Linked DNA regions of Homo sapiens: regions 2 and 3 are each linked to region 1. The links come from fine-mapping of genetic effects on gene expression. A gene starts in region 1. Each other region holds a variant in brackets. All regions are shown on one strand. Distances are between the middles of the regions. Region 1 holds the start of OTUD3 (OTU deubiquitinase 3). Region 2 has its middle 30 kb from the start of RNF186. Region 3 overlaps OTUD3 (OTU deubiquitinase 3).

Evidence for each region.
Region 2: its variant is fine-mapped to the expression of OTUD3 in whole blood (INTERVAL, PIP 0.96).
Region 3: its variant is fine-mapped to the expression of OTUD3 in tibial nerve (GTEx, PIP above 0.99). The same link has a PIP of 0.9 or more in visceral fat and whole blood.

What each region holds. Positions count from the first base shown.
Region 1 is chr1:19,878,824-19,886,823 of GRCh38, reverse strand. OTUD3 (OTU deubiquitinase 3) reads right to left here and starts at 4,429. Exons shown (of 8, transcript NM_015207.2): 1 at 4,090-4,429. The coding sequence starts at 4,310. All of the region lies in intron 1 of LOC105376823 (a long non-coding RNA gene), which reads left to right. RefSeq lists a silencer at 3,886-4,225 and an enhancer at 4,596-4,645.
Region 2 is chr1:19,840,945-19,849,220 of GRCh38, reverse strand. No RefSeq gene overlaps it. Among named protein-coding and RNA genes, the nearest start is that of RNF186, 30 kb to the right of the region's middle. The variant A/G (reference allele first, on the strand shown) is at 3,830.
Region 3 is chr1:19,902,249-19,910,518 of GRCh38, reverse strand. OTUD3 (OTU deubiquitinase 3) reads right to left here. Exons shown (of 8, transcript NM_015207.2): 5 at 6,121-6,252; 6 at 5,532-5,628; 7 at 3,903-4,087; 8 at 1-2,949. The coding sequence ends at 2,773. Among named protein-coding and RNA genes, the nearest start is that of PLA2G2E, 17 kb to the left of the region's middle. The variant C/T (reference allele first, on the strand shown) is at 3,926.

The DNA of each region.
Region 1 (8,000 bases):
AAATGAAAATGCTGGGGCCCACCCAGGCCTACTCAATCAGGCATTCTGGGGTTGGGGCCCAGCAACGTAGCCCTTCCAGGTGTTTTCACTAGCAGTCCAGGTGGTTATGTTGCATACTGAAGTTTGAGAAACACTAGTTGAGCATCTAGACTCTAAATCAGTCACTCTCAATTATGGATGCATATAAGAATCATCTGTAAATTTTTTTTTAAAAAACATCAATAACCAGGCCCCACTCTAAGATTCTGATGTAGTTGATCTAGGGGAGAGCCCAGGCCCTGAATTGTTTCAAAAGTTCCTCCCCAGATATTCTAGTATGGCACCCAACTGAAAACCACTGAGTGAGGCACAAAAGATGGCACTGCTGTTCAGGTGACACAGGCAATAATTAGACAAGATGATGTGTGAATGCCCTTCTACTACTGTGATCCTGCAATATTAAAAACAAAACTAAAAAATAAACTACTTGTTAGTAATAAGATAAACAGCTAAAATTAGTGATTCTTCAATGTTTCAATTTTAGAACACTGCTAATGAGTAATGTAACTCAGAACTACATTTAGTAAGACCCAACTAGATAAGTTCAGAGGGATGTTAATATTGTACTGCCTAATAAATAGAGTTATACATTCTTTTCACACTATAGCCAATCATGTTTTTAAGGAAAACATCAAGGTTAAACTATTTCTTTCTTGCTTTGAAAAATGAATCCAATTTATGTGGGTCCACCTTCCAGACAACACGTGAAATATGAAGCTGGTCCAGGAAGCATTACAAAACCCTCTAAGTAGCTCCCTGATTAATCTACACTAAGCTGACTCAACCCATGTAAAGGCTGTATTACAGGATATTGGTTAATTCATCCCTAAACCCCCTCAGGTTCCAGAATGCTACAGGTACCATATTGCCAACAATGAACATGCTCATAGATACTGTATCAGGCTACTCCAGATTGTAATCAAATCTGAATGAAAACAGGGAACGCTAGAGATGTCAACTATTTTTTAATAGTCTTTAACTTCATTATATTTCACCTGAGTCCTTAATAAACATTAATAAAAGAATCCGTTGTCCAGGCGCGGTGGCTCACACCTGTAATTCCACCACTTTGGGAGGCCAAGGCGGATGGATCATGAGGTCAGGAGTTCGAGACCAGCCTGGCCAACATGGTGAAACCCCATCTCTACTAAAAATACAAACAAATTAGCTGGCTGTGGTAGCAGGTGCCTGTAATCCCAGCTACTCAGGAGGCTGAGGCAAGAGAATTGTTTGAACCCAGGAGGCAGAGATTGCAGTGAGCCAAGATTGTGCCACTGCACTCCAGCCTGGGTGGCAGAGTAAGACTCCGTCTGAGGGGGGTAGAAGAATCTGTTGACACCTGCCAACCCATCACATACACAGGAAACACCATCCCCTGCAGTGATAAAGTCTGTCATCACCACATTCGAAAGGACTAGGATACTGACGAGGGCTGAACCACAGTCCAGCTAATGGAACTCATGTGAAGAACTTGTGAACAGAAGGTGGTTAGCTCCATGAAGCCCACACAAGAGGAAATACGATCATTTTATCTAACACTGTCCGAATAACAGGAACCTTGGAAGAGAGACATGAGCACTCCAGTCAAGCTGGTTTCTGGAGCCTAGCTTCACTGCCCGTTACTTCTACCCTTGTGCCCTACACTACCCGTCACCCTAAACAACCTGTAGATCTCCCAAAAACATCGTGTCCTTGTGCCTCTATATATACTCCTTCTCAGATGGGACCGTTCTCTTGGTGTACTCCTATTGGTCCTTCATGACCCAATCAGAGCATGACACCCTCTGAGAGGCATCTAGCAGTGTATCCAATGAGTATTTACCGAATGAACGAGAAGGACTTCCTGGCCAATTCATAGAGTAGTAGCCTTTTCCTTCTCAATAGTACCATTATAATCAGTCACTGTTACTAAAAATATATCAAACTATATTTTAATTATTTGTATCATCTGTTCTCAAAGTGTGACTCAAGGGACCGGAGATGTGGGAAGGTCTCTGATATGCTTTCAGGGTATCCGTGAGTTCAAAACTAAGATGTAATGTACCTTTTTCATTCTCATTCTCTCACAAGTGCAGTGGAGTTTTCCAGAGGCTACCTGATGCATGAAGTCATCACTCTGATAGCTAATGGAATGTGTGTGTATTCTTGTGTTTTAACTTTGTTTTACTTTCTAATACAGTAAATACTCATAGCTATAACCCATATAAAGTTCTTTCGGTTTCTCAGTAATTTTTAAGAATGCCAAGAGATCTTAAGACCAAAAAAGCTGAGACCCACTGTTACGTGTTTCTACCTTAGGCTATGAAGTCCTTAAGTATCTTAGTCATCAACATATTCCCAGCACCCTACTTAAGGTGTGCTGAATTAACTTGAAAAGTATGCTGTGTGTGTATGGGGGTGTGGGGATAGGGAGCAGAAGTAGTACCCCCAAAGTTTCCCATAACCTTATGAAAGCCCCCTCAAGAGTTTACAACTCCCTGTGCTAATTCCTCCTCATAAGTAACCTTCTATTGAGTACTTCAGTTTCCTGGGCACCCTGACATTGAGAATACCATACCCAGTATAGCAGACACAAGCAATCCAATCATTTGCAAGGAAAAGCCCCAATGTCCCACGCCAATTCCACTGTATTCAATTGGTATTTCTGTTTCTATAAGGGTGTCTTGGGCTTATGCTTAGGCTAGCTGACCTCCCTCTATTATTTTTATATTTCATTCAGCAAAAACGTACTGACTGCCTTCCATGTACCAAGCACTTTGCCAGATGATGGTGAATAAATGTAATCAAGTTCCAACTGCATCTTAAGCAAAAACAGCAACGCAGCAAAGTGTGGTGAACTCTTTGTGAGCAAAAAGAAATCCAATCTGCCTGAAGCAATGAGCATAAACAGGAACGGTGGGAAAGGGAAATTAGGACCAGTTCACAGTCTTAATCAATAAGCTGCAATGTAATGTGAAAATTTTTAAAACACCTTATTCTGCAGTTAATATCTAAGGCAATTCCTGGCCGGGGGTGGTAGCTCATGCCTGTAATCTAGGCACTTTGGGAGGCCGAGGCAGGAGGATCGCTTGAAGCCAGGAGTTCGAGACCAGCCTGGGCAACACAGCAAAATCACCGTCTCTACAAAATAACAATAATAATGAACTAAGGCAATTCCTTATGGTCTTTAATTTCATTTTAGTCTTCCCTCTGCAGGATCTGAGCACTCAAATACGGGGAGGAAAAAAACAAAAGCCAGGCTGTTATTAACACTCTCTCTTCCAAAGTGACACAGCTGACAACCAGACCCCTTTTTACCTGCCCCTGCAATGGGGATCCTAACTGTTCTCCCCTCTTCCTGACCCTTTTCCTTCTTCCATCCATGTTCCTGGAGCCATATCCCCTTTCTTGAAGCTAATTTTCTTCCTCCTCCCCACTCTCCCCCTCCGCGTTCCCTAAAGAAAGCTGGACCTGGATCCAGTCTAAGTCCCAAGAAAGCTTGGGGAAGCACCTTTGCTTACAGAGAAACTGAGGCCCATGGAAGGAAGAATTAGAGAAGCTGCCTTCAGCTCAGTAAACAGGCGACCTAATTTCACAAATGTAAATGGGGGCACCACCCAAAAACCAAGGACTCAAAGGAGGCAAAGCGTTCTACCAAGTGGGGCTTACTCAAACTCCTTCAACTGGTCTTATCGTCATGATAACTGTTTTTCCAATGCCTGGCTCCATCTCATTCCTTCAGAACTCAGCTTAAATGTCACCTTTGAGAGAGCCCTTCCTGGCCACAATCCAGTGGCCCTGCTCCCATATACGGTCTCAGCACCCACTTTCTATTTCGCTCGCGGCGTCTGCCATGATTAGGACCCTTTGGGATCCCCGCGAGCGTCTCGGGGCGAGGGGCTTGTCCGCCTCACTCGCAGCTGGACGCCCTGCACTCGGAGCGTGGCTGGCTCGCGGGAGGCGCCCGGGCCGCCCGAATGAATGGATGGATGGACGCGAGCGGGCAACGGTCGCCAGGCCGAGCCCGGCGCGTCCCCCGGCGCCGCCTCCCTCGCTCCCGGCCCGCCTCACCCGTCCCCCGGCACCTCCCGCAGCTTCAGCCCCAGGGCCTGCAGCTGGTTGGCGAAGCTGACGAACTCCTCCTCGCAGCCGCCGCCGCCGCCAGACTCCGGCCGATTCCGCCGCTCCTTGGCCAGGGCCCGGCGCGCCGCCCGCTCGTCCCGCTTGCGCTCGGCCTCGGCTTTCCGGCTGCCGCTGCCCGGCCGGCTCTTCGCCGCCTGCTTTCGGGACATGGCCTTAGCCTGCAGTCCCCAGCGGCAGGAGGGAAAGGCGCAGGACCCCCCAGCGTCCGCCTCAAGCGTTGGGAAGGTAAAACAGCGCGGGCAACGGAGCCCGGCGACGACTACGCAGCAACCGCGCCTGCGCCGGCGCCCAGCACCCCGGTCACATGATGGAATCCCCGCCTCTTTTGCGGGGCTCGGCGAGCAGACGCCATAGAGAGCTGGAGGGGCACCCATCTTGGTTTGTTCTATTCCGCCCTCTAGTGGTGGATGGTACTCAACGTGAGTGGCAGGAGCGACCGGAGAGGGACCAGAGAGAACAAAGCAGGAACAAGTCAAGCAGAGAAATTAAAGATGATAGAAGAGTGGAACACAGAGCAGCGGCAAAAGTTAGGACCGGAGATGAATAAAAACGATTTAAACTCTTGCTGCGAGCCTACTACAGTTGGATAGGCACTTTCACACGGCTCATTCTTGTTTAATTATCCCCAAATTACAGGAAACTGAATCTGAGTGGTTAAATAATTTCAAGATCACACAGCTAAAAGGCAGAGCTTTGCCCTGGCTCCAAAGCCCGCATACTTGTTTATTTAATCCTGCCCTTCATCTCTCCGCCTTCCTTCGTAACTCAAGGGAGAGGTCGCCCTTCTGTCCAAGACCACTGGAAATCCTAATTCCATCCTAGAGCGACCCACCTAGGTTTGCCTGGACTAGAGGTTTTCTTGGGATGCAGGACTTTCCGTTTTAAAACTGAGACAGACCAGGCTGGGCGTGATGGCTCACACCTGTAATCCCAGCACTTTGGGAGGCCGAGGCGGGCTGACCACAAAGTCAGGAGATGGAGACCATCCTGGCTAACACTGTGAAACCCCGTCTCTACTAAAAATACAAAAATTAGCCGGGCGTGGTGGCGGGCGCCTGTAGTCCCAGCTACTCGGGAGGCTGAGGCAGGAGAATGGCATGAACCCGGGAAGCGGAGCTTGCAGTGAGCCGAGATTGCACCACTGCACTCCAGCCTGGGGGACAGAGCGAGACTCCATCTCAAAAAACAAACAAACAAAAAAACAAAAACAAAAACTGAGGCCAGGTGCAGTGGCCCACGCCTGTAATCCCAACACTTTGGGAAGCCGAGGCCAGGGGATCGCCTGAGGTCAGGAGTTCGAGACCAGCCTGGCCAGCTGGCCAAGATGGTGAAACCCCATCTATATTGCGTGAGGCTGAGGTTTGGAGTACAAATGAATCTGTCACCCAGGTAGTGAGCAAAGTACACAATACACAATAGGTAGTTTTTCAACCCTTTCCCCCAACTGCCTCCCGACTCTTGTATTCCCCAGAGTCTATTGTTCCCATCTTTGTGTCCATGTGTATCCAATGTTTAGCTCCCACTTATAAGAACGTGCAGTATTTGGTTTTCTGTTTCTGCCTTAGTTCACTTAGGATAATGGTTTCCAGCTGTATCCATGTTGCTGTTCTCCCCTCTTCCTGGACATGATTTTGTTCTTTTTTATGGCTGCATAGTATTCCATGGTGTATATATACCACATTTTCTTTATCTAATCCACTGTTGATGCGTACCTGGGTTGATTCTATGTCTTTGCTATTGTGAATAGTGCTGCAGTGAACATACGGGTGCATCTGTCTTTTTGATAGAACGATATATATTCCTTTGAGTATAGACCCAGTAATGAGATTGCTGGGTCGAGTGGTAGTTCAATTTTTAGTTCTTTGAGAAATCTCCAAACTGCTCTCCACAGTGGCTGAACTAATTTACATTCCCACCAACAGTGTAAAAATGTTCCCCTTTTCCCCACAGCCTCAGCAACATCTGCTATTTTTTCTTTTTAACAAAAGCCATTCTAACTGGCATGAGATGGTATTTCATCGTGATTTTGATTTGCATTTTTCTGATGACAATAAGAATGCAAAAGAGAGTTGTAAAGATTAAATAAAAATGTAAAGCCCCAGGCATGAAGTAAGTACCTATTTAATGAAGTTGTTTGAATCAGTTCTCTGGAAATCTCATGAGCTCAGGGGCAAAGACTTTCAAACTTTAGAAACCAGGGAAGAAAGGTTTCTCACCAGCAAATAAGTAAATACAGACTGCTAACATATTGATAGAAAAGCGAACACTTGCCCGTCTTGTAAAAATCTTTTTGGCTGGGCGTGTGGCTCACGCTTGTAATCCCAACACTTTGGGAGGTGGAGGCGGGCGGATCACCTGAGGTGAGGAGTTCGAGGCCAGCCTGTAATCCCAGCTACTGGGGAGGCTGAGGCAGGAGAATCGCTTGAACCCGGGAGGCAAAGGTTGCAGTGAGCCGAGATTGCGCCATTGCACTCCAGTCTGGGCAACAAGAGTGAAACTCCTTCTCAAAACAAAAACAAAAACACAAACAAAAAATCTTTTCTGGCATAAGCCCTTAGCCTTTAGCCCACACACAGATTTTGAATGGGCGAATTTCTCTTCTCAGCGGAGACCTGTGTTAGACAGTGTCTCTAAGTGCAAATCAATGCTGCCTATAAATTATATTTAAAGGCCAAAGGGAAGGAGTATAGTACTTGTAAATAAAATGAATGCTCTGCCCACTTCGCTAGAGTTAATTAAAAGAATCATTGACCCGCACAGTGGCTCATGCCTGTAATCCCAGGACTTTGGGAGGCCAAAGTGGGGGTATTGCTTGAGCCCAGGAGTTCAAGATCTGCCTGGGCAACAAAGTGAGATTCCCCATCTCTGCAAAAAAATTTTAATTAGCTGGGCATGGTGATGCATGCCTGTAGTCCCAGCTATTCGGGAGGGGCTGAAGTTGGAGGATCACTTGAACCTGGGAGTTTGAGGCTGCAGTGAGGTATGACTGTGCCACTGCACTCCAGCCTAGGTGACAGAGCAAGACCCTGTCTCAAAAATAATAATAATAGTAATCAAACCTCATTGGATGGCAGTATAAATTAGTAAAAAGTGTGACTAACAGAATTTTAGTGAAGAAATGCAGCTTTAGGACTTTCAAGAACATACCATCAAGGGTATGGGAAAATGAGAACTCTCGCACACTGCTGTTGGGAGGTAAATTTATCTAGCCACTTTGGAGGGCAATTTGGACTGTATCTGGTAACTTTGGGGTTTTTTTTGTTTTTTTGTTTGTTTGTTTGTTTTGAGATGGAGTCTTGTTCTGTTGCCCAGGCTGGAGTGCCGTGGTATGATCTCGGCTTACTGCAACCTCTGCCTCCCGGGCTGAAGAGATTGTCAGAGATTCTCCTGCTTCAGCCTCCAGAGCAGCTGGGAATACAGGCACACACCACCATGCCCAGCTAATTTTTTTTTTTTTTTTTTTGTATTTTTAGTAGAGGCGAGGTTTCACCATGTTGGCCAGTCTGGTCTCGAACTCCTGATCTCAGGTGATCCGCGTGCCTCAGCCTCTTACTGTGCTGGGATTAGAGGCATGAACCACTGCACCTGGCCTGTATCTGGTAACATTTTAAATGTCTAGTGTCTACATCTCGTGATCTATCCTAAAAATAGAAATATTACATCTCCTCCTAAACTCCTCGTGTGTATCCGTATTCTAAATTTTCCTCGTGCAAGACGATGAACCCCAGGGTATATACTCCGGACAATGTAGCTCCTTCAAAAGTACACTCTCAGACGCAGATAGTCCTAAAGCAAATTACATGCACGTGCACTAGAAGGTATGTCCAAGTGTTGGCAGT
Region 2 (8,276 bases), 38 kb after region 1:
TTAAAAAGCTATAAATATACTTAAAAGCCCTCTGTTTTTCTCTTCTTGGAACTTGTTTTACTGAAAAAAAGTTTTTTCTTCTCAATCAACTAAATCGTTTTTCTCCATTTTTTTTCTTGCCACTTTTCTTTTTTTTTTTTGAGACAGAATTTCACTCTTTTTGCCCAGGCTAGAGTGCAATGGCACGATCTCGGCTCTTCGTGAGCTCTGCCTCCCGGGTTCAAGAGATTCTCCTGCTTCAACCTCCTGAGTAGCTTGGATTACAAGCATGTGCCACCACGCCTGGCTAATTTTGTATTTTTAGTAGAGATGGAGTTTCTCTATGTTGGTCAGGCTGGTCTCGAACTCCCGACCTCAAGTGATCCGCCTGCCTCGGCCTCCCAAAGTGCTGGGATTACAGGCATGAGCCACTGCACACGGCCTTCTTGCCACTCTTAATGCACACATGAAAGGCCTTAAAATAACTTCTGGTAGCTGGGACTCCTTGGGAAACACAGAGGAGGCACCACAGACCCCGTTTTGGAAAAAAAGCCTCTGTTTTCCTCATGAAACCCCAGGAATTAAAAGCAGATAGATCCCTCTCAAAATCAAAGGCTCTGTTACGTTTTGCATTGTGTTATCTGACAGTTTTGAGTTCTGAGGGAATCAAAATTTACTTTGCATTATAAAAGAGCTTTGGTATATAATAACCAGATAGGAAATATACTTTAAGGGATGGTTAATAGTAGTTACGGAGGGAGACTTGACTCTGCACACTTAAATCAGAGAAGCATGCTCTTAGCCACCTGGAAGATAAGGAAACATTCCCAACTCCAATGGGAGATAAAACTCCCACGAGGGATGGGCTGATTACAAAATGGGCTAATTGGCTTTGGGTTACCTTGCAGTGCAATGCAAAGAAGAAGGACTGCACTGTCTTCTCCCACAGTATTTCCCTCCTTCTGGGGATCCAGGATCCAGTGTAAAATGGCATCCTTAATTTTAAGACTCTGTCTTTGCCTTCAGCTGCTTATTTGGCCCTAGAAACCAAGCTTTCCCAGCCTTGTTCTTCCAAGGGCTCCACCCTGAAGCCAGTCATCCAATTAAGAAACTGGCAAATGAAAAATCTTACAAGTGCTGAATCTTCTGTCTGTCTGTGTATTTATATGTGTTGTATGTTTATATATAAAAAGCTCTAATTAATTGGGTTAAAAAAATAAGCACTTAAATCAAATATTTTGTCAAAAATAGAAACTTTAATGCCTTTTTGTTCACATGACTTTAGTAATCTTAAAAATAAAGACAGTTTTAAAAATTACTGGTAAAATAAAATGTCTTTAAAATATAAACATTTAGTCTAAATTAAGGTCAAACATCAGATTTGCTAAATGCTTTAAGGTCAAACTATTTCTTTAACTTTTATTTTATTTTATTTATTTAAGACAGGGTCTCACTCAGTCACCCAGGCTGGAGTGCAGTGGCACTCCAGGTAACGTCAGGAAGTTACCCTATGTAGTCTAAAAAGAGGAGGCATGAATAATCCACCCCTTGTTTAGTATATCATCAAAAAAAACCCATAAAAATGGGCAACCAGCCGCCCTCGGGGCTGCTCTGTCTATGGAGTAGCCATTCTTTTATTCCTTTACTTTATTAATAATCTTGCTTTCGTTTTCCACTGCGGACTCGCCCTGAATTCTTTCTTGCGCAAGATCCAAGAACCCTCTCTTGGGGTCTGGATCCGGACCCCTTTCTGGTAACCCTAGGGCTGCTGTTTTAATAACGTATCTAAGATAACAGTCAAAACTGAGTTCTTACTCCTGGAGTGACTTTAAGTCACGGCAGATAGCAACATGCAACTTGGGATTCAGAGAAATGAAGCATAGCTTTTCTTTTAACATTGACCTTATTTTCTACTTGGAATGAATGGAGAACCTGGAAACTGTGTAAGGCAACCCAGTGGAGTTAGGCACAGAGCAGAGACTTGGACTCAGAGAAGGAAGGTGTGAATCCCTGTACTCCCGCTTCCTAGCTGGGTGATGTTGGGCGCATTCCTTAACCTTCCTGAACCTTAGGTTCCACATCTAAAAACCAGGCACAGTTATACCTCTTACATAAGAGTAATGAGGGACTGTATGAGAATGCCTTGCACATACCTGACACATGGGAGATGCTCATTCTATGTTTTTTAATCTGAACAAGTTGAAACAAAGAAAGGAGTGTCCTCATATTGAGAAGATTATAATTGACCAGGATCATACCCAAGCATGGAGTATTCATGGAGAACAGACACAGGTTTCCCTCGTATGCACAGGGCAAGGCAGATCAAAGGAATGGGAGTTACAGAGTCAAAATTTTGGCAAAGGTTAAGGCCAGAAGTGCTGGTAGCCAACCTTGGGGTTGAATGGGATAACGTGGGGCCCAACCAAGGGCTCCCACGACACAGGAAAGAGGCACGAAAGACCCATTCATGGTTCAGCTTTCTCTCTGAGCTTCAGCAAATCAGACAATATGAACCGTATTCACTGTCAAAGCATGATGTGAGGATAAAATGAGGTTTTATATGTGAAAGGGCTTTATTGGACTCTTGTAAAGTATTAAATGGAATACACCCATACAAATAAAATTTGAAAGTAAAAGTTGCATAAAAAGTATTATGTGGATCAAAGTTGGTGTTTATATAATGGGTGTGTATTGAATTCCTTCACCATCAGGTATAAGAAAATGCTCATTCTCTGTAACAGCTAATGAGCCCCACCTCCCTGGTTGTTGGAAAATCCCAACTCAGTCACATTTTGGGAGGCACTACTTTCTCTAGGGTTGTGCAAAAGTCCTCCGAAGCCTGTGCTGAGACCCTCCCATCAGCAGCCCGCACTGGACCATTGTCCCAGCCTACCTTGAAGGTGGTATTTATGCTGCCTTGGAGCCAAACTGGAGCACAGGAAGTCTTTGCCCAGGCCAGAGATCTCTGTGCCTGGGATCAGAATTCCCTCAGCTCAGCCCACAATCATCCCCATCAGAGGTCCTGCTAGCTCCACTTTTCTCTCTGTTCTACGTTTCCTATTTTCTGGAGAGCTTTCCCAAATTTCTCCTCTCCCCCTTCTCTACTAAGGGATTTTATCAGCTTGTTCCATCTTTTCCAACCCTTGAAGCCCTGCTCCCTCTCATACAATCCCACTCTGGCCACCGAGGGGAACCCAGCTCCTAGGCATGGGTAGGGGAGGGCTCTGATTTGAGGGGTCCTAGAAACTCCTGCTTCTGGCTACCTGCTTAGGATGAAGGAGGGGAGACCGCCATTACGAGAATAAAAATACAATTTAATATCTCAGTAAAATATACAAGTAGTATGCTCATTGTAGAGCATTCAATAAGTAGTAGGTTCTTCACACTCCTTAAACAAAGTATAATTTAAGGTTAGTTTAGATTGAGTTCTACTTGATTTTTTTTTTTTGGAGATGGAGTCTTGCTCTTTCACCCAGGCTGGGGTGCAGTGACGCAATCTCAGCTCACAGCAACCACCTCCTCCTGGGTTCAAGTGATTCTCCTGCCTCAGCCTCTCATGTAGCTGGGACTATGGGCATGTGCTACCACGCCCGGCTGATTTTTGTATTTTTAGTAGAGACAGAGTTTCACCATGTTGGCCAGGCTGGTCTTGGTCTCCTGACCCCAGGCGATTCGCCTGTCTCGGCCTCCCAAACTGCTAGGATTACAGGCATGAGCCACAGCACCCAGCCTATTTTAGTTCTGTGTTCTTACTACAAATAAGAGATCCATTCGTTTTTCAAGCAAATCATGTTTTTTGGCAGAAAGCCGATACTACCAACCATGAGCTCTGACCTAGGTCTCAGCACTC[A/G]CTGGAGGAAGGTCTCTCCGTTGCCGACTCAGCTGTTTCAGGAAACAAATGTCTTGGAGATGAATGGGTAATGCTGACTTTATAGAGTAAAGACAGTCCCCACAGACGATTAACAAAGAAAGGAAAATATTCCAAGCTCCACCCCTCACTCCCTCACCCTCTCATCCTCTCACCCTTGAATTCTGTATCACATTTGGAAAACATTGTGTCTTTCTTTCCTCCCCTTTCAGTCATGGTTGTTTATTTTAGAGTAGGAGGTCACTGTCGAGGAAAAACTGAACAACTGTGTTTTTTGTTTTGTTTTGTTTTGTTTTGTTTTGTTTTGTTTTGTTTTGTTTTTTTCTGTAACACGGGGCCGAGGCTGGAGCCAAGACTACAGCCTAGGACTTTACTCTGGGATGGAAATAAATCTCCCGAGGCCTCTGTGCAGAAGAGGGTGGTTCGATTGCCAGTGAAATGCCTTTGTGTGTTTTTTATGAAAGAGGGAAGAAAAATCAAGGTCAACAATCTGAGAATAGAAGAAAGGGAGAAGGTGGTGGAGCTCATTCCCAGGGAAAATGCTAATGCTCCAGATCATCAAAGCTGGCCATGAACTTGCCATCAGTGTGGTTCAGAGCAAAACAAAAATGCGTAGAAAAAGGCCTGGAGGAGAACACTGGACTGATAAGGAAGACTGCTCATGTAGAGGGGACTGAGACTGGGCCGTTGGAGAAGTGGGTACATGTGATAAAGGATAAGTTAGGCTTCTCTTCAGTGCATTTATTTTATTTATTTATTTTTTTTTTTTAAGACAGACAGGGTCTCACCATGTTGCCCAGGCTGGTCTCAAACTCTTGAGCTCAAACCTCTCAAAGTGCTGAGATTATAGTCATGAGCCACTGCACCTGGCCTATTGTGTTAAATTTACTTATTTATTTATTGTTGAGACAGAGTCTTGCTCTGTCACCCAGGCTGGAGTGCAGTAATCTCAGCTCACTGCAACCTTCGCCTCCCGGGTTCAAGCAATTCTCTGCCTCAGCCTCCCGAGTAGCTGGGATTACCGGTGCCGGCCACCATGCCTGGCTAATTTTTAGTAGAGACAGGGTTTCATCATCTTGGCCAGGCTGGTCTTGAATTCCTGACCTCATGATCTACCCGCCTCAGCCTCCCAGAGTGCTGGGATTACAGGCGTGAGCCACTGCACCTGGCCTACTGAGTTACATTTTATGATTGAATATATATTCATGCAGTACTTGTGTGATTAAAACTAATGTTTAAAAGTTTATCTTAAAAAAGCAAGTACATGAGGTTTAGAGTCATAAATTCTGGGTATGCGATTTACCTTTTCCACTTGGAGATGGTCAGCCATCATTTATTGAGCAACTATTACATGCCAAGGAATATGCCAGGAAATTTATCCAAGTCTCCATTTACTTGTCTCTACAAGGGGTGTGATAATTTTGACTTCACAGGATTATCAAGAATAGGGCTGGGCGCAGTAGCTCACCCCTGTAATCGCAGCACTTTGGGACTCCGAGGTGGGCGTATCACTTGAGGTCAGGAGTTGGAGACCAGGCTGGCCAACACGGTGAAACCCTGTCTCTACTAAAAATACAAAAAATTAGCCAGGCATGGTGGCACGTGCCTGTAATCCCAGCTACTCAAGAGGCTGAAGCAGAAGAATGGCTTGAACCTGTGAGGCAGAGGTTGGCGTGAGCCAAGGTTGTGCCACTGTGCTCCAGCCTGGGCGATAAAGCAAGACTCCATCTCAAAAAAAAAAAAAGAATATTAACTGAAAGCATAGAGATAGGTTAAAACACAAATGCCTGTTATGCATTTATTGTAAGCCTTGTTCAAAAGAAGGTTTAAAGTGGTACTTATTAACTTCCTTCTATTTTTTTAGTTTAATATATTTTTAACAGAGACAGGGTCTCACTATGTTGCCCAAGCTGGTCTTGATCTCCTGGCCTCAATCAGTCCTCCTGCCTTGGCCTCCCAAAGTGCTAGGATTACAGGCATGAACCACCATGCTTGGCCAAGTTAATAATTTTTTGAAACAATCACAAATTTATTAAAAATCTGGAAAGATGGTACAAAGAACAGTGTGCTGGTGAATGTTTAACAATTGGCTGTCCAGAGGGAAAAAAAGACTGGAGTTGTAACATTTGCCAATTTCCATGGTGTAAATACTCCCACTACAGGCAATTTCATGCTGCCAACATGAGGTTACTGCACGCAGAGTTGGAAAGACGTTGAGCATAACCGACTTCAGTGCACTACTAACACACATAACTTTCTTCCCTGAACCATTTGAGAATAAGTTACCAGCCTGATACATCTCCCAAATACTAGAGTATGTAGTTCCTACAAACACAGATATTCCACAATTCCTTACAACCACAAGGAACCCTGAAAAATCAGGAAATTAACATGAAAAACATCTAATCCAGAGGCCTCATGCAAGTTTCACCAACTGTCCCAACAATGTCCTTGATAGTAAAAAAAAATCCAGTTCAGCATCTCACGTTGTGTTTCGCGGTAAAGTCTCTCTAGACTCCCCTTAAACCTGGAGCAGTTCCTCAGTTTGTCCTTGACTTGCATGGACATGACATTTTTGAAGATGGCATGTCAGTTAATTTATAGAAAGTACCTCAATTTGGGTTTGACCGATGTTTCCTTATGATTTTATTGAGGTTTTGCATCATTGGCAGGAATGCCACAGAAGCAAGGTTGAGTTCTTCTCCTTGCATCCTCTTAGAAGAAGTAATTTTTTTTTTTTTTTGAGGTGGAGTCTAGCTCTGTCGCCCAAGCTGGCGTGCAGTGGTGCGATCTCGGCTCACTGCAACCTCTGCCGCCTGGGTTCAAGCGATTCTCCTGCCTCAGCCTCCCGAGTAGCTGGGATTACAGGTGCCCACCACCACACCCAGCTAATTTTTGTATTTTTAGTAGAGACGGGGTTTCACTGTGTTGGCCAGGGTGGTCTTGATCTGCCTGCCTCGCCCTCCCAAAGTGCTGGGATTACAAGCGTGAGCCACTGTGCCTGGCCTAGGTAGAGTAGTGTTTAGATCCATCCCATTATTTATGATGTTCATTATTATTAAGTTTCTATCTGCCTGACTTTTCCACTATGATGTTATTTTTTTTCTTTTGTAATTAGTAAGTATTGTGCAGAGAAGTACTTTGAAACTGCGTAAATACCCTATTCCTCCTGACATTTAAAAATTTTTTTTTAAGACGGAGCTTCACTCTTGTTGCCCAGAATGGAGTGCAGTGGCACAGTCTTGGCTCACTGCAACCTCTGTCTCCCAGGTTCAAGTGATTCTCCTGCCTCGGCCTCCTGAGTAGCTGGGATTACAGGCATGCACCACCATGCCCGGCTAATTTTGTATTTTAGTAGAGACAGGGTTTCGCCATGTTGGTCAGGCTGGTCTCAAACTCCTGACCTCAGGTGATCCACCGCCTCAGCCTCCCAAAGTGCTGGGATTACAGGCATGAGCCACCACGCCTGGCCCCTCCTGACATTTTCAATGTATTATTTTATTGACTTACATGTGTATAGACTCATGGTTTTCTACTTTATTCCATTAGTTTGAATCCATTATTATCATTACTTATTTTGATACCAAATTGTCTCTGATTTGAACAGTGGGACGGAATTCTTTGAGTACTTCCTTACTTTCTAGCATGTTTCAGATTCATCATGCACTGTCTCCACTCTAGCCTTGGAATCAGTCATTTTTCTGAGTTGTCCTGGTTCCTTGGACTCCTTATTAGAATCCTTGGTAGAGAATGGAATTTATTTATTTATTTATTTATTTATTTGTTTATTGAGACGGAGTCTCACTCTGTCACCTAGGCTCAAATGCAGTGGTGCGATCTCGGCTCACTGCAGCCTCCATCTCCTGGGTTCAAGCGATTCTTCTGGCTCAGCCTTGCAAGTAGCTGGGACCACAGGCGAGCGCCACCATGCCCGGCTAATTTTTTGTATTTGTAGTAGAAATGAGGTTTTGCCATGTTGGCCAGGCTGGTCTCAAACTCCTGGCCTCAAGTGATCCGCCTGCCTTGGCCTGCCAAATTGCTGGGATTATAGGCATGAGCCACCGCGCCCAACCAAGAATGGAACTTAGAAACCAAGTTCTATGCTCATTTCTGATGTCACTGTTCCCAGGCCCCCGTGGACAGTGATAAGGAATGTACACACACATTTGCATGCACACATTTAAATCTATCTTTATTTCCATATGTATCCATCTATGTCTATTGAAAGCCACAAGTTCACGCACAAATCTCCAATTTCAATTCAGAACCAGTTTCTTAGCGATTTCTCCCTTTCCATACTTGTCTCTTCCTTCTCCAGTAGTGAAGAATTAGGCCCATTTTAAAATTAAGACATAATTCACATACCATAAAAGTCGCCTGTTTAAAGTATACCGTATGGTGTTTTTTAGTATATTTGCAAGATTGTACA
Region 3 (8,270 bases), 24 kb before region 1:
TAATATCTCCTAGTGGCAACTACATTATCTAGAAGTTATGGTTCTATGCTGCTTTAATACATCTACCTCTCTAGTTCAAAGCTGTTGCCACTAAAATGGTATTTATTTTGACCTCTAAAAAAAAATATTTTCAAAATCCGTAAAACCTTTATATACCGTTTATAAGAGCAGTAAGCAGCTATGCACCACTGCTCCATCCCCTTTCTCCTGACCACACTACAAGCTACCAAGACAATCTCATGTAACATAAATCTCTGCCAGCCAAGATGTAACACAGAGGTTAAGACACATTCAGTTCCTAATAAAGAGTTCACAGGAGCACCTGTACTAGAGTAACAGCTGCTGACAACAGTCATCCCAGGACTAGACATACTGGGCCTCCACTCGGGCTGCCAGTGAAGGAATTTTCAAGTGCCCACTGAGGCAACTAAGCATGTTGATTCCAACCTTCTCATGTACCCAGTGAGACTGAGGCAGTGAAGTCTAAATTGAAACCATTAGCTAGAAGGTATCACTGAAGTTGGATGCATGTACCCGATTCCTAATAATTAACACACTAAACAGACCAACTGTAACTGAAAAGCTGTGAAACCAGTAGTAAAATTACTAAAGCCGTTTGATTAGTTTTTTAAACCACCATTATTATACTCCAGAAATGCTGAAGCCTATTACCAGAATTAGGTAATTTAAAAAATAAATGTTCCCAATATTCTTTAATAACTTTTTAGCAGCTTCTAAAACTTCTAAAACCCAATAGGGCCCAAGGCCACCTTCATTAACCAAGTAAATAAAGCAATTCTACTACTTCTGACAATAAGTCTCTCTTAAGCTGACTGCTAATCTGAATTTCTGGCATACAATCTTATCTTTCTGAGAGGATCTGGCCTCTGCACTCAAGCAGTACAAAACAGACAGGAAAACATCTTCATTCAGAAACACTCAGCCAGTCAGGAATCTGCCCAGAGTTGAAAACCAAGACAACCATAGATCCTAACGCACTCGATCCCACTTCCTTAGAGTAAGGCAACAGAGATCTTTCATTCGTTTGGAATGAGTAGAGTAACACAGCCTCAAGCTCAGGACTCTGCGACGTGCACAGAAAAAAAATGCTGTGTACTTTTTTTAATCTGCTAAATTTTACAATGTACTGTACCCAGGAAGAAACCTAAACCACAATGTCCTAGGAGCAATTCCAAGAGACTACTGATGCTCCAACTACAAAAAGCCACCAAAGTCAAAAACAAAACCAAAAGATACCAGTGAAACTGAAGAAAGCCAAAGGCCTGGTGATAAAGACAATCTGGCGACTCCAGGGCCTACCAAACATTTTAGTTTTCAATTTGCCTCCGAATTTTTATAATTCTGAAATGCGAGGGGTGGGGAAGATAACTAATAATTTACCTTTCAACTCAGCATCAATTATTTGCCCAAGTATTAGGTCCCAAAAGACAAAGATGATCCAAGATGGGCTGCCTCATACGTTATAGTTCTTAAGTTCACATCCACCTAACTCAGTTTTAGGAAAGACGTCTCTCCACTGCTCAAGTCTGTCTATTTCAGAACTGAAGAGTGATTCGAAGGCCTCAACCAAAGTATGTTCTCTTCTCTGCTGGTCCAACCTAAGTCAACCAACCCTGCTGGTCCAACAACTTCCAGCAGATGCTGGAGTTTTCCCAACTTTGAAATGCCAAACAGGGCTTAAATAAAAAGAAATAAATGTAGCATTTTATAAGATTTAATTTCCACAATACTAAGTTTAGCGACCTATAAGGTCAAGTTACCACGTATCTCTCTGAAGGCATCTAAGTCTACAACAGAAGGGAAGAAAATCGTTATTTAAAATGCGAACATGAAAAACCTTATTCTTCCAGGCTTCTCCTATAAAAACATAATTCTTTAGACTCCTCTTAGGCAAAACCCCAGGAGTTCGTCTCCTGTTACAACTATAGACCCTGCTCTACACACTATCAGAATTCCAGAACTGTATCACAAGCAGTAACATGCCATCTCCCCACTGTCAGGAAACAAATACCAAAAACCCAACACCACTATCAACTTCCCAACAAGGCCAGGCCTAATTAACAGTCAGCTGCATTTATCATATGGCTTGAGTGCAAATGAACTAACAGCACCTGCATCCCATCTGAAATAACATCAGAATCAGGAAGGAGAGAAATGCGGTTAATTTCCATCCTGACTGCAGGCCACAACCCTCACGTAACTTTGGGAAAACAATTCCTGAATTATTTTCTGAGTAACTTGGATTAGAAGTAAATCAAAGCATATTCCTGAGTTGGAGATCATTTATAAGCTACCCTATATATCTGTTTGAGAATGAAAGAGAAACTAAGGAAACTTGTCATTCTGAATTTCTAACAATTATTCTAAACTACTCATGAACAATTACAGCAAAACTCACCCCAAATGTTAAGGAAAGATCCTAGGGTCACTGAAGTCTGATTTTCAGGGCAAATAAAGCCACCACTTAAAAGGTTTTTCCTGACCTAACTATCTGCCCCTAAAACTCAGTATTTTAATTTTGTATTACAGAATATGAATGGCCTCACTGCATTTTCATAAAACACCAACATATCACTAATAAAACTTCGAACAAAAAAAGAGGCAGCTTGAACGAAACTAACTCAGTGTGTGAGCTCATGTGTGGGCTTCGTTGGTTGTGTTGCGTTTTATAAAAGGACGGCCTCACTGGAAAGTCTAGCACACAGCAATCCTTTTCCAGCCGCTTCTTACAACTCCCAAGAGGCCAAAGAGTCAGATGTTGAGAGCGGCGAAGGTCTTCACCAAGGTGACCTGCGTGTTCGCCTCTGCTTCGCTTCTGTTATTGTCCCTGTGGCTACCTCTGCTCTCCAGGGCTTTGTGGCGGTGCCTCTCCTCCTGCCGCTTCTTCTTCTCCATCCACTGCTGTTCTCGCCTCTGTTTGTTTGTGACCTGAGAGAGAAGGCCATGGTGGTGAGTAGGAAGCACGGGGGACTCAAGCTGCCACCTGCTAGAAGGGAGATGGTGGCAAAGGGCACAGATTGCTTTTCAGCAGGAACAGGGAAAACCAATCTAAGACGCCAAAGATGATTTACTGTCCACTGCTGCTCAAATTTGCATTTAAATTTATATTTCCTTGCTGAACTAGCAAACAAAATCAATTCCATTCTTCTCTTAAAGAAACCAGCCCTCATCCAGCAAGAGTTGGTAACAAACAAACGTGTCAGAGAACATTTTTCCCCACATAATTTAATGCCCCAGGTAATTCTGACAAAATCCTCAGAAGCTTATTGCATCTCTGCCTCTGCTGTGGCTTTTTACACTGTGGCATTTTGAGCTCAGAACTTCTTGGTGAAAATCTTTAAAATGATTCCAAATTCAGTAAAATGGAAGATGTCACATACTACTTGTGGGAGTGAAGGGCAGGGAGGGAGATGTACCTTTCTGGGAAGCACGTGACAATTTACCAAAAGCCTTTAAAAGATTCATGTATCCATGACCTTTAACCTGTTCATTCCTCTTCTGGGACTTTATTCAAGAAAATAATGCAAAAACCAAAGATTTATACACAAAGGTGTTCATTGCAGATCATGGCATTTATAAAAAACATGGATAAACATGGGAAGAGCCCACATGTACAGTAATGTTAGGTGGGAAAAGGAGGCTTTTCATTTGTACACTGAGGACAATTTCAGGGTGTATTTCCTTCCAACTGTCACGGCATACACCAAACAGGATAAGTGAGGTCATTCTGCTTCTTGATGTAGCTTTATGCATTCCCCAGATTTTCCACACTACTTTTATAAATCAGAAGGAAAATACAAATAAAATTAATCTCAAGCTACCACCACTGCCACAGAATTACACCTGCCCACCACCTGCCCATTCAACCCCATCTTACATACCTTTGCGAGCTGGTTTTTATTTG[C/T]TTTGTTTTCTTCACTAGGGCTGGCCTGTGCCTTATTGTTTTCGGTCCTGCCTTCATTTAAGCCCTGATTTCCAAAGATTCTGGCACCACTGCCACCCTCCTCCCACAAAGGGCCACACTGCTTCAGCACTCGACCACTGGGCTCAAGATTCTCTTCTGCATCTTCCAAAGAAAGACATTTCATTAAAACTGAGAACCTGAGAGTTACACAGGGTGATGACTGTATTAATGATTCCAAAATTACCTGGGTCCCTACTTCAGTCATAAGGGAAGTAAGTTTCCTTGAGACAAATTCGAATGTCAAGACAGTGGGAAACATAGGAAGAAAAAGTTGGTAAAAGTTGGAAGATAAATTCTAAAATAACCCACTGACCAGCCTTTTGATCAGCTTCCAACCAGCAGAGTGCTTTTTAGATAAATTATGTCTTAACATGAATTTTTATGGGAAAATCTTTCATTTGCACCCAAAACCCAGAAAAGAAACAGGCTCTAAAGCTGTGCTGTCCAATGTATTAGCCACCAGCTATATGTGGCCATTTACATTTAAATTAAAATTAAACAACATTTAAAACGTAGCTCTCCAGTCTCATTGCTCATGTGGCAGGTACACACTATACTGAACAGCACAGATCACTGGAGGGTGCTGTTTAAAGTCACAAAGACCAAGTTACTTACAGATTTCTAAAAGTACAGCCAATACATAGTGGATAATAAAATACCTCATCACATGGAGCACTATGATGCCAGAAACAGTATCTGACACGTAACATCTGGCAATCAGTATTTATTGATATCATTTTAAATAAATGACTTGAGAAATTAATAAGATGTTACATCCTTTTCTCTTTTTTTTGAGAGGGAGTCTCGCTCTGTTGCCCAGGCTGGAGTGCAATGGTGCGATCTTAGCTCACTGTAACCACCACCTCCCAGGTTCAAGCAATTCTCCTGCCTCAGCCTCCTGAGTAGCTGGGATTACAGGCACCCGCCACCACACCCAGCTAATTTTTGTATTTTTAGTAGAGACGGGGTTTCACCATGTTCGTCAGGCTGGTCTCAAACTCCTGACCTCGTGATCCACCTGCCTCAGCCTCCCAAAGTGCTGGGATTACAGGTGTGAGCCACCACACCCAGCCGTTACATCTCTTTTCTTTCCTCTGAGTCACAAAATTATACTTGGTTCAAATTAAAAAAAAAAAATCAAAATTATCACAAGCTAATACAAATCTAAATATTTCCACCAGAAAAACAAGGTATTTCTCTCTCCATTTTATTTTGGTTATCATTTTGGTCTTCTAAGGCCATCTTATTTCTAAACAGGCTAATTCTTCCCTGATGCGTCCCCCAGCACCCTGTACTCCCAACCCCATTATGTACTATCGCACCAGTTTATCTGTCTCCACTATCCACCCTCTACCCCTGAACTATACTCCCCCTGAAGCAGAGACAGGACCTAGTAAAAAATGTCTACGTACAGAACGTGCTCAATAAACAACTCCTAAATGAATGACAGAACAGTTACCACCTGTGACTTGGTTAAAAAATAAATATTTGGAAAATTACCAACACAACCATTTTGAAGATCTATAAATATTAGTCATGGACTTACTATTTCTCTTCCCTTGGTTCATCCGAAGCACGGCAATTATTGCAGATTCAATATTATAATTTTCAGCTTCCAGGTTCTGGACTATTAAATTAAAATCCTATCCAAGAAACAAACAAACAAAAAAACCACTTCAAAACTCTGGGTATATTTTTCTGCCTAGCTCTACTTCAATAATCATAAACATAAAGATGTAATAGTGAGAATTAACACAAGGTTTCAGGACCTTTTCCATTTAGAAAAATGTCGATTTCCAATAAGGTTGGTCCCTTGAAATAACCGTCTAATGTACACTTATAAATGAATTCCCTCTATAAAACTGCATTTGTACTACTGTAAACACTAGTCAGGAAAAATTAAATCCACATACTTCCTAAGACCTTTGAGCAGTACTGGGTGAAGTCTAGCAAACAACAGGGAAATTAATAAACAGCTCTCATTAAGCCACATACACTAATCAAACTACAAATCTCATGGGCCTATTTTGGCCCACAAGGTGCTGATATGCTAGAGAGGTGCTACGAAACTAAGAAGTAAGCTAGGCACAGCAATGCTTGCTTCTAAATCATTCCTGCAAGACAGAAATACTAACTGAACATCCAGTTGCATTACAAACTTTCTGGACAGCATCCTCTACTTCATCTCTCAGGTCGTCTTCAGAGTCCATTCCCTTTGTCTTGATCTTTTCTCTTTTATTTGATTCATCTTGATGAAGCATCTGAAACTAAAGGAAACAAGTAATAATCAGGGAACTATGTTGAGAATCAAACTATGTTCAGAATCTTTAACACAAGACACTCTAATCTGGAAAAATTCATATATATAGGGGAAAACCTTCTAGAAACAACCTTAAGAGAACAGCAATGACTAGGCTCCATTTTATCCACTCATTGTACTTTGAGTCACAACAGAGGAATTGAAAAGAAAGGCCCAAAAGACAGAATAACTGCTCAGTAAGAAAGGCATTCGCACTCCCATGTCTAAATGCCAACACTGGCAAATGACTGCTGCCTCTGACAGCACACAGTCACCTCAGCTGATTTTCAGAGCCGTGAGCTTAACAGAAAACGATCCTCTATACTCGCACCTGGTGAACTTTTGCACAAAAACGGTGCTGGTCTTGAAGAAACCTACATACAACTTCCCTCTGGTTCCCAAGCCTTATTTGATCATCAGCACGCTTAGAGGTACTGAAGCTCCCGTCCCAGCTGGACAGTCACGGATGAGCATGACTCATCTAACCTCAGGTACATACCACCACACCCAGGGAAACTTGTCAATCCAAATCCTAAAGCCACAAACAACAGTTCACTTGGGATCCATGAGACCTTTACAACCTGGGCCTTAAATCAGAAAAGCTAAAATCATCCCTCTGTAGATGCTCAACCACCTTCTTCTTCTGCTTCCCATTGATGCAGGGAGATAGGTAAATGGGCAAAGACAGTTCTATTTTTTGAATGTAAACATATAGTGGACTCCAGCAATGTACAGTATATTCCTCAGAATGTTAATACAAAACATTCTATTATAAAATTAAACCCTAAGAATTTGACAAAGTTACAGGAGTCTTTGAGCCGGTAGTTTCACAGTTTTGAAATTTAGCCAAAGGAAATAATATCAAATAGAGAAAAGATTTATGGGCCTGGTGCAGTGGCTCACACCTGTAATCCCAGCACTTTGGGAGGCTGATGGGGGTGGGTCACTTGACCTCAGGAGTTCAAAACCAGCCTGGGCAACAAAGTGACATCCCGTCTCTACAAAAAAAATACAAAAGAATTATTTGGACATGGTGGCATGCACCTGTAGTCCCAGCTATTCAGGAGGCTGAGCTGGGAGGATGGCTTGAGCCCAGGAGGTGGAGGTTGCAGTGAGCCGAGATCACACCACTGCATTCCAGCCTGGACAACAGAGCTAGACCTTGTCTCAAAAAAAAAAAAAAAAAAAAAAAAAGAGAAAAGATTCAGGTAAAAGTGCTAACAGTGTTACTTATAGTGGTGAATAACTGGAAACCACCCAAAGGCTTTATAGTATGGATATGGTTAAATAACCACTGTAAATCCACAGAATGATGTCTTCATTCCCACTAAAGGAAGAAACACAATAATCACTCCCCCCATTATTACTTAACAATATTTTGGAGGTAACAGCCAAAGTATTTAGCCAAAATAAATTTTAAGTATAAAATTAAAAAGAAAAAAGTAATCTGTCTTTGTAGATGATATAATTCTGTAACTGAAACAAGAGAATCAACAAAAAACTACTGCAAACCAAAAAAATTACAGCAAATCATATACCTGGGTAAGAATCTAGCATCTAGAATATATTAAAAAACTCTTACAACTCAAAAAGGCAGAACCCAATTAAAAAATAGGCAAAAGACTTGAATAGACATTTTTCCAAAGATATACAAATGGCCGAAAACCACATGAAAAGATGTTCAATGTCATTAGCTATTAAGAAAATGCAATTCAAAACTTTAAGATACTGGCCGGGCGTGGTGGCTCATGCCTGTAATCCCAGCACTTTGGGAGGCCGAGGTGGGTGGATCACGAGGTCAGGAGATCGAGACCATCCTGGCTAACACGATGAAACCCTGTCTCCACTAAAAACACAAAAATTTAGCTGGGCGTGGCGGTGGGTCCCTGTAGTCCCAGCTACTCGGGAGGCTGAGGCAGAAGAATGGCGTGAACCCGGGAGGCGGAGCTTGCCAGTGAGCCACGATCGTGCCGCTGCACTCCAGCC